Linked DNA regions of Homo sapiens: region 1 is linked to region 2. Evidence: fine-mapped expression QTL. A gene starts in region 2. The other region holds a variant in brackets. All regions are shown on one strand. Distances are from middle to middle. Region 1 overlaps USO1 (USO1 vesicle transport factor). Region 2 holds the start of ODAPH (odontogenesis associated phosphoprotein).

Region 1 (4,400 bases), 190 kb after region 2:
TCTGGAGTTCAGTGGCACGACTGTGGCTCACTGCAGTCTCAAACTACTGGGCTCAAGTGATCCTCCTGCCTCAGCCTCCTGAGTAGCTAGGACTACAGGCACTCGCCAACATGCCTGGTTAATTTTTAAATTTCTTATAAAGACAGGATCTAGCTGTGTTGCCCAGGCTGATCACAAATTCCTGGCTTCAAGCAGTCCTCCTTTTCGGCCTCCCAGAACTCTGAGATTACAGACATGAGCTACTGCGCCTGGCCTAGGAGCAGTGGTTTAGTATTCACTAATTCAGTTTTCATGGTAACTTTATAAAACATAGCTACTGTAAATAGCAACAAACAGTTATATTCATAAACCAGGTGAATAGTCAATCAGGTGGTATTTTAGAGTAGGTAATAAAAGCAAGATCTAATATGGAAATTTCTTTAATTTTTTTCTCTTTATTTATTGAAGCAATAATGGAAATATGCTTGCTGTAAATAATCCAAATCAGTATGTAGTCTAAAATTGCCTCTTTCTTCCTTCACAGTCTTACTTCGCATCACTCGAAGTAATCTCTAGTAAAGTTTGGTGTACATCCTTCTACAGTGTTGTCTTTTGTATTTACCAATATATATATTTACACAAATGAGTTTCTTTATAAAAATCTGTAACTGTGATAGTTCTTGGTAGCTCAGTGTCGGGGCTAAATTCTGAGAAATGCATTATTAGGCAGTTTTGTTGTGCAAACATCCTAGAGTGTACTTAAAGCAAACCTAGATAGTATAGCCTACTATTCACCTAGGCTGTATGGTGTAGCCTATTGCTCTTGGGCCATAAACCTGTACAGCGTGTTACTGTAATGAATACTGTAGGCAATTATAACAATGGTAAATATTTGTGTATCTATGCATCTACAGTAAAATGTGGCATAAAAGATAGTAAATAGTATGCCTATATAGGTCGCTTAATCATGAATAGAGCTTGCAGGACCAGAAGTTGCTCTGGATGAGTCAAGTGAGTGAGTGGTGAATGAATGTGAAGACCAAGGACATTATGTAAAGTATACTTTATAAACACTATACACTTAAGGCTACACTAAATTCATTTTTTAAAATTTTCTTCAGTAATTGACCTTAGTTTACTATAACTTTTTAACTTCATAAAGTTTTAAACTTTTTTTAAAGCTTTCTGTAATAATGCTTAGTTTAAAACACAAACACATTGTACGATATTTTTCTTCTATATCCTTCTTCTATAAGCTTTTTCCTATTTTAAAATTTTTACTTTTTAAACTTTTTTTTTTTTTTTTTTTTTTTGAGACAGTCTCGCTCTGTCAGCCAGGCTGAAGTGCAATGGCGCAATATCGGCTCACTGCAACCTCCGCCTCCCAAGCTCAAGTAATTCTCCCGCCTCAGCCTCTCGAGTAGCTGGGATTACAGGCACCTGCCATCATGCCTGGCTAATTTTTCCATTTTTGTAGAGATGGGGTTTCACCATGTTGGCCAGGCTGGTGTTGAACTCCTGACCTCAGGTGATTCGGCCTCCCAAAGTGCTGGGATTATAGGCGTGAGCTACCATGCCCGGCCACTTTTTTGTTAAAAACTAAGACACAAACACCTGTTAGCCTAGGCCTACACAGGGCAGGGTCATCAATATCACTGTCTTCTACCCTCATCTCTTGTTCCACTGGAAGGTCTTCAGGGGCAGTAACATGCAATAGAGCTGTCAACTCCTATAATAATAATGCCTTCTTCTGGAATACTTCTTGAAGGACCTGCCTGAGGCTGTTTTACAGTTAACTTTTATTTTTTGTGAGTAGAAGTACACTCTAACATAACCATTAAAAGTATAATATAGTAAATACATAAACAAGTAACAGTCATTTGTTACTGTTATCAAGTATTAT[G/GTACT]TACTGTACACAATTGTCTGTGCCATACTTTCATAAGCCTGGCAGTGCAGTGGGTTTGTTTACACCAGCATCACCACAAACACATGAGTAATGTGTTGTGCTAAGGCTAGGACATCGGTAGGTGATAGGAATTTTGCATTTCCATTATCATCATATGGGACGTCTGTGCAGTGGTCCATTGTTGACTTGAATGTCGTTACGTAGGCCATGCGTATTTTAAAATTTTTAACAGTGGGTTTTGGAGATTTGTTTCAAACAAATAGGCTGAGGCATTTGTTTCTTGTTAACACTTTTCTATTCTGTAATCTTACCTATCTTCACTGTATTTACATATGTGTTATTCAGATGGTGAAATTTTGGAAAAGTTACTTGTTTCAAGTACAGAATGGTTGAAATGTGTGCCTTGGTAGTATGCTGAGATAAGAAATACTTTGTTAAAAGGCCTAGGGGCAAACATTTCTGACTTTCTCATGAAAATAGAGTGGATCAATTTCTTCTGTGTTGTAACTCCCTCTTTTGATCACTAATTGATAAGGTGCTAGATTACATTAAAATCTGATATCTAAATGTTTTACATCCTTCCCAACTTTCCTATCATGTAGATGAGAGTGTTGAGAACTAAGATAAGAGTTTGTGACTTCAGATGACCAGTGAGTTTATGAATTTTGCTTAAAACTACTAATCGTCTTCTTTGGTCGGTTTCCAAGAGAATGAGGTTCCAGCAACAAAGCCTGCTTCAGGATCCCATCTGGGAAAGTGAATAAGCATATCTTTTTTTTTTTTTTTTTGAGACAGAGTCTCGCTCAGTTGCCCAGGCTGGAGTGCAGTGGCACGATCTCGGCTCACTGCAGGCTCCACCTCCCGGGTTCAAGCCATTCTCCTGCCTCAGCCTCCCGAGTGGCTGGGACTACAGGCACCCACCACCATGCCTGGCTAATTTTCTTGTATTTTTAGTAGAGACAGGGTTTCACCGTGTTAGCCAGGATGGTCACGATCTCCTGACCTCGTGATCCACCCGTGTCGGCCTCCCAAAGTGCTGGGATTACAAGCGTGAGCCACCATGCCTGGCCGAATAAGTGTTATCTTTTAACTGTACAATTAAATTGTTTTTCCTTCTGATGGTAACATACTCATTGAGTCGGTTTTCCTACTCTTCTTTTTGCTTCATTCTTGTTACCCTTACTCACACTTCCATCTGTATCCAAAATTGTGTTTCTCTAAGGCCCCTCTGCCTGGCTGTGCTGTCCAAAGTAGCACCTTCACTCAGTCACGGTCTCACTTCCCTCACTTTCTGTGTTTGTCTTACTTGTTTTTAATATATTCTGTCTCTTTGCCATTATAGTTTCATTAGAATAGGTACCTTCTGTACTGGTTCTCTGCTATTTTCCCAGCGTAGACCAGTGCCTTGCAAAATGTTAAGTACTTGAACGGTGTTTCCCAGACTGTCTGTAGTGAAGGACCAGTTGATTTTTTAGTTTGTTTTTCAAATTTCATCATAGGCCAGTAAATACATTTTGTTATAAAATACAATAAAAATCAATTACTAGAAAAAATGACATCACATACAAGCCCTTTTTTTTGAGACAGAGTCTCGCTCTGTCACCTAGGCTGGAGTGCAGTGGCGCGATCTTGGCTCACTGCAAGCTCCGCCTCCTGGATTCACGCCATTCTCCTGCCTCAGCCTCCCAAGTAGCTGGGACTACAGGCGCCCGCCACCACGGCCGGCTAATTTTTTGTATTTTTAGTAGAGATGGGGTTTCACCGTGTTAGCCAGGATAGTCTGGATCTCCTGACCTCATGATCCGCCCGCCATGGCCTCCCAAAGTGCTGGGATTACAGGCATGAGCCACTGTGCCTCGCCCCTGTTTTTCTTTTTTTTATTAGATCCAACAGCCATAAAAGTATCCATTGTCTATAGAGGTTTCTAAATGCTTAGTCTCTATTTCTGAAGTTAGTTTATTATAAACCACTGCTTCAGGTTGCACTGTTCTTGGCCCCCCCATAAGTGTGGCAGCACTCTAGTATTTGTTGAACAAATGAATGGATTACCAGCCTCAGGGTTACCACAATAAATTCTTCAGACTGTATTATTCCTTTGACCTTTAACTTTCCTAAACCCCAGAGTATATACTGAGATACGGAAGGATGATGGCTCATTCATGATATCAGACTTCAGCTGGCTTATTCACTGCTGTTTTTTGATTCTATAATAATTATTATTTTGAGACGGAGTCTCACTCTGTCGCCCAGGCCAGAGTGCAGTGGTGTGATCTTGGCTCACTGCAACCTCCGCCTCTCAGGTTCAAGCAGTTCTCGTGCCTCAGACTCCCGAGTAGCTGAGATTACAGGCACCCACCATCACACCCAGCTCTTTTTTGTATTTTTAGTAGAGACAAGGTTTCACCATTTTGGGCAGGCTGGTCTTGAACTCCTGACCTCAGGTGATCTGCCTGCCTTGGCCTCCCAAAGTGCTGGGATTAGAGGCGTAAGCCACCGCGCCCAGCCCCTATCCTTTTTG
Region 2 (4,400 bases):
GGTGGGCAGATCACCTGAGGTCAGGCATTCGAGACCAGCCTAGCCAAAATGGTGAAATCCCGTCTCTACCAAAAATACAAAAAAATTAGCTGGGTGTGGTGGCACACCCTCATGCCTCAGCCTCCTGAGTAGCCCTGTAATCCCAGCTACTCGGGAGGCTGAAGCAAGAGAATTGCTTGAGCCCAGGAAGCAGAGGTTGCCGTGAGCCAAATGGTGCCACTGCACTCCAGCCTGGGCAACAGAATGACACTCCATCTCAAAAGAAAAAAAAATGTATTCCTTTTAAAATTTTGTTCCTTTATTTTATAAACTTCAGAACAACAGATTTGAATGAAAAAATAAGTTATTTTGCTTTTGTTATTTATTTTCATCAACATTTAAGATGAAAGCTCATTAGCACTCCAAAACAAAAAAGAAAGAGAATCAGAAGAAGTAATAGAAATGTCCATCAGTTAAAAGTTTGGTTAAATAAATTACAGTAAATCTATAAAATGAAACACCAGGCAGTGGCTGAAGTGATTATGTGAATCTAATTCTATTGGCATTGTGGTGTATTTACAATGCAGGGGACAAAGTAGCATATGTGATACTGACCCGTTGATGTAAAATTACAGACTGTGTTTGTCTGCTTCGTTCTCCCATAGCCTTCAGTCCTTCCCCTCTCTTAGCACTCAAAACGCTTTATTGTTATTCCTGAGTTAATTTTTAATGTCTCCTAAACTATAAGTTCCATGAGAGCAGGAATCTTATCTTTAGCCCCAGCACCTTGACCAGTGTCTGACACTGAATAAATAAAAGTCAATACAGAATTATTGAATGAATGGGTAGTCTAAGGAACTCAATTTGTCCTGGATGTTTCCTGATTCCTTTTCAAACTGCTGACAAATCATCCATCTGATTATCTGTTCTGGAAGTTTGCCTAGGACTAACATCAAGCCTGAGGAACTTTCCATTTTCTATCTGTGAGTGTTTGCATCCTTATTCATTTAGACTTTCAGTTTGCACAGCCTCTCTTGTTAGATTGTCAGTCCTTCAAAGACAGGGACCATGTTTAGTTTGTTCTTTTTTTTTTTTTTTTTTTTTTTCCATGATACCCAGGAAAATGTTCTGCTTAAAGTGGAGGTCTTTCCAGTGATTAACTGATTTGGCAAGTACAGCCTCCTAAGAGAATAAATTATCAGTTGGGATTATTATAATTTAATGACAATCACAAACACTCCCTTTCACAGGCCAGGCACTGTGGTTGGAGCTGTATGTCAATTATCTCCTTGATATGAAACCAACTAAGTGGCCATCGACCAACGAGTGGATAAAGAAAATGTGGTAGAAATACACCATGGAATACTACTCAGCCATAAAAAAATGAAATAATGTCTTTTGCAGCAACTTGGATGGAGCTGGAGGCCATTATTCCAAGTTAAGTAACTCAGGAATGGAAAACCAAATATCGTATGTTCTCACTTATACGTGGGAGCTGAGCTATGAGGACACAAAGACATACAGAATGATATAATGGACTTTAGAGGCTAGGGGTGGGGGAGGTTGGGAAGGAGGTGAGGGATAAAAGACTACATATTGGGTGCAGTGTACACTGCTCGGGTGACGAGTGCACTAAAATCTCAGAGTTCGCCACCATAGAGTCCATCCATGTAACCCAAAACCACTCGTACCCCAAAAGATTGAAATTTAAAAAAAATTTTTTTTAAAAGCATCTCCTTAATTCACAAATTCCTCTGAGGGTAGTACCACAAGTCCCATTTTACAGGTGAGGCCCCTGAGGCTTCAGCAAGTCTCAGGGACTCACCACAGTCACTCAGCTAGTAAGAAAAGGAACAAAGACTGGAATTTTACCTGACTCCAAGGTCCATGTTCTTAATCACCTGTGACAATCCCCTCTCATATATCCAGCAGCTGATGAAGTCTTTCTCTCAGGAAACCAACTGGACATAGACATGTCATGTCCATTTTATATGCAATATGGTGAATCAGGAGGAGCCGTGAAAGGACGACTCACTAAGTTACTCTCCCAATGTTTATGTTTGTTTAGACAGTGACCATCATGACCACTAGGGAAGATCACTTTCTGATTCTGCTGCCCTCACCTCCTGGACAAAAGCAGAGCAGAGAAGCAGCATAAACCCTGGTTGGGGGCCTAAGAATGATCCCCAACTCTCCACTGCAAACCACCGGGGTCAGGAAGCCTCCGGGTAATGCCCTCTCCCTCTTGTTTCGCTTTTTAAGTAGGTAAGCTGCACAGAGAGAAGCACTGTTGCATATTTCTGGACAGCTTATTTCTCTTGCAGAGGAAGACTGATATACACAACTAAAAGGCACTAACATGGGAGAAGATTTGAGAGATTAGAAGGATGGTGAAGGTGCGGTTGTCCAAAATCCCCCTCTGGGGGGAGATGATTGATATCTGGCTGTCATTCCAAGAAGCTTCTGGTTGACAAATACTGTCTGGTATTTCCTTGCTGATTTCTTACCCTCACACCGCAAGCCCTGATCTCTGTGGTCCACTGTGCAAATGCAAATTACCTGAATCAGGCTGCTGGTGACTCACCAGCTCCCCTTTAAAGCAACATCAGGTTCAACGCAGTGACTGCTCAGTAGAAGCCATGGCTCGCAGACACTGCTTCTCCTACTGGTTACTGGTATGCTGGTTGGTGGTAACTGTGGCAGAAGGTAAGGGTTTTGCTTTTATTCTACTGTGGGTCCACTAATTAATAAGTTGTAGGAAAAGACAAAACTGGCTCCATGATTATACGTTCCCATAAATTGGAAATATTTACCTCAGCTTCCATCAGCCTGTGTGGTTAAAGAGAAGGAAGTTGGATTTTGTCACCTGAAGACCTTGGTCCTCGTCTCAGCAATAGCTCTGTGACTTTAGACACACTTAAAATCTCTGAGTATCAGATTCCTCATATGTGAAGTGACAACATTAACAATATCCATCGTTATGGGGTTTGCAAGGACCAAATGAGCTATCATCTGTGAAAAACTCTTCAAGCTAAAAACACTGTACAAATACTAGTTATTATGGTTACAAAGCTAACAATTCCACTTTGAATTACAGCACTGTCCACTTTCTATCTCCAGCAGCATATTAATTTGCACATGGTGGGTATTTAGTCTTTGTTCATTGCTTTAATTAATCACATCTATTGAGCTGCATTTTGGTGCCACAGAGGTGGGCACAGGTTTCTTTCTTTAGGATTTTATTAGATTCCATTTCTCAACTGTTCCTATTCTCTTTCTTTGTTCCCACTACAAAATGTGTCCTGAGCCTTACAATTGGTTTGCAAACCCCTAGGAAAAGGAAAGAAAAGGCTGGGGAAGGGATGAAAAGAGGGAAATACAAGGGGAGGAAATCTTGGGGAGCCTAGATCTAACCTTTTCTTCAGTTTATTTTAATTCCAAAACTAGATGCTGTTTACGGAAGATGGACCTAGGAGTCAAACAGAGCACTTCACCCCTTTCACATGTCTTGGGTAGGGGGCTTTGCAGGGGCTCAGCCAAACCCTGCTCATCCCCAGACAGATTCCCCGTTCCCATCCCTCAGAGCTCACAATAGACAGGAGGAGGGGAGAGACATAAGAGCTGGTTGTGGAACACTCAGAAACCCCCTGATCCAACCTCTGCACACACTCTGGCAATCAGGGGACAGGGCATAGATTATGAACAAAACCTGCCCCCATATCCCAAGGCAAGGCCCCCAAGCCTCACCTACTAAAAGTGACATCTAAAAGAAGCATCATAAAACAAAACTAGCCACCTGCCACTTTCTCTGCAAAAAGTGAACCGCTCTTCAGGAGGCTTTGTAAACACATAGCTAAACAAGTTATAATGAGATTAGAGATTTATTTTATTCACATCTTAAAAACACCCACTGAGGCTGGGTACAGTGGCTCACACCTGTAATCCCAGCATTTTGGGAGGCCGAGGTGGGCAGATCACCTGAGGTCGGGAGTTCAAAACCAGCCTGACCAACATGGAGAAACCCCATCTCTACAAAAAATACAAAATTAGCCAGGTGTGGTGGTGCATGCCTGTAATCCCAGCTACTCGGGAGGCTGAGGCAGGAGAATCGCTTGAACCCAGGAGGTGGAGGTTGCCATGAGCCAAGATCGTGCCATTGCACTCCAGCCTGGGGAACAAGAGTGAAACTCTGTCTCAAAAAACAAAACACCCATTGAAACACCAGATTTGATTTCCGAATTTGGCTCACTTTTCCCTACAATCCCTCGAAGTCCTTCAAATGTAGCTTCATTCTATCCCAGCAGCCCCTGCTTCCAGTTCATCGCTCGTTCACACACACCCTGGGTCTGCCCGACAAGGTCATGTGTGGATCTCCATACTCATCCTCTTCTCACTGATGCACGGCAGCAACCACAGCTGCT

The links. PIP is the estimated chance that this variant, and not a neighbour inherited with it, causes the effect.
Region 1: its variant is the best candidate, but not a certain one, in a credible set for the expression of ODAPH in prefrontal cortex (CommonMind, PIP 0.67).

The regions. Positions count from the first base shown.
Region 1 is chr4:75,740,333-75,744,732 of GRCh38, forward strand. All of the region lies in intron 1 of USO1 (USO1 vesicle transport factor), which reads left to right. Among named protein-coding and RNA genes, the nearest start is that of USO1, 18 kb to the left of the region's middle. The variant G/GTACT (reference allele first, on the strand shown) is at 1,883.
Region 2 is chr4:75,553,465-75,557,864 of GRCh38, forward strand. ODAPH (odontogenesis associated phosphoprotein) reads left to right here and starts at 2,602. Exons shown (of 2, transcript NM_178497.5): 1 at 2,602-2,685. The coding sequence starts at 2,619. RefSeq lists a silencer at 2,335-2,629.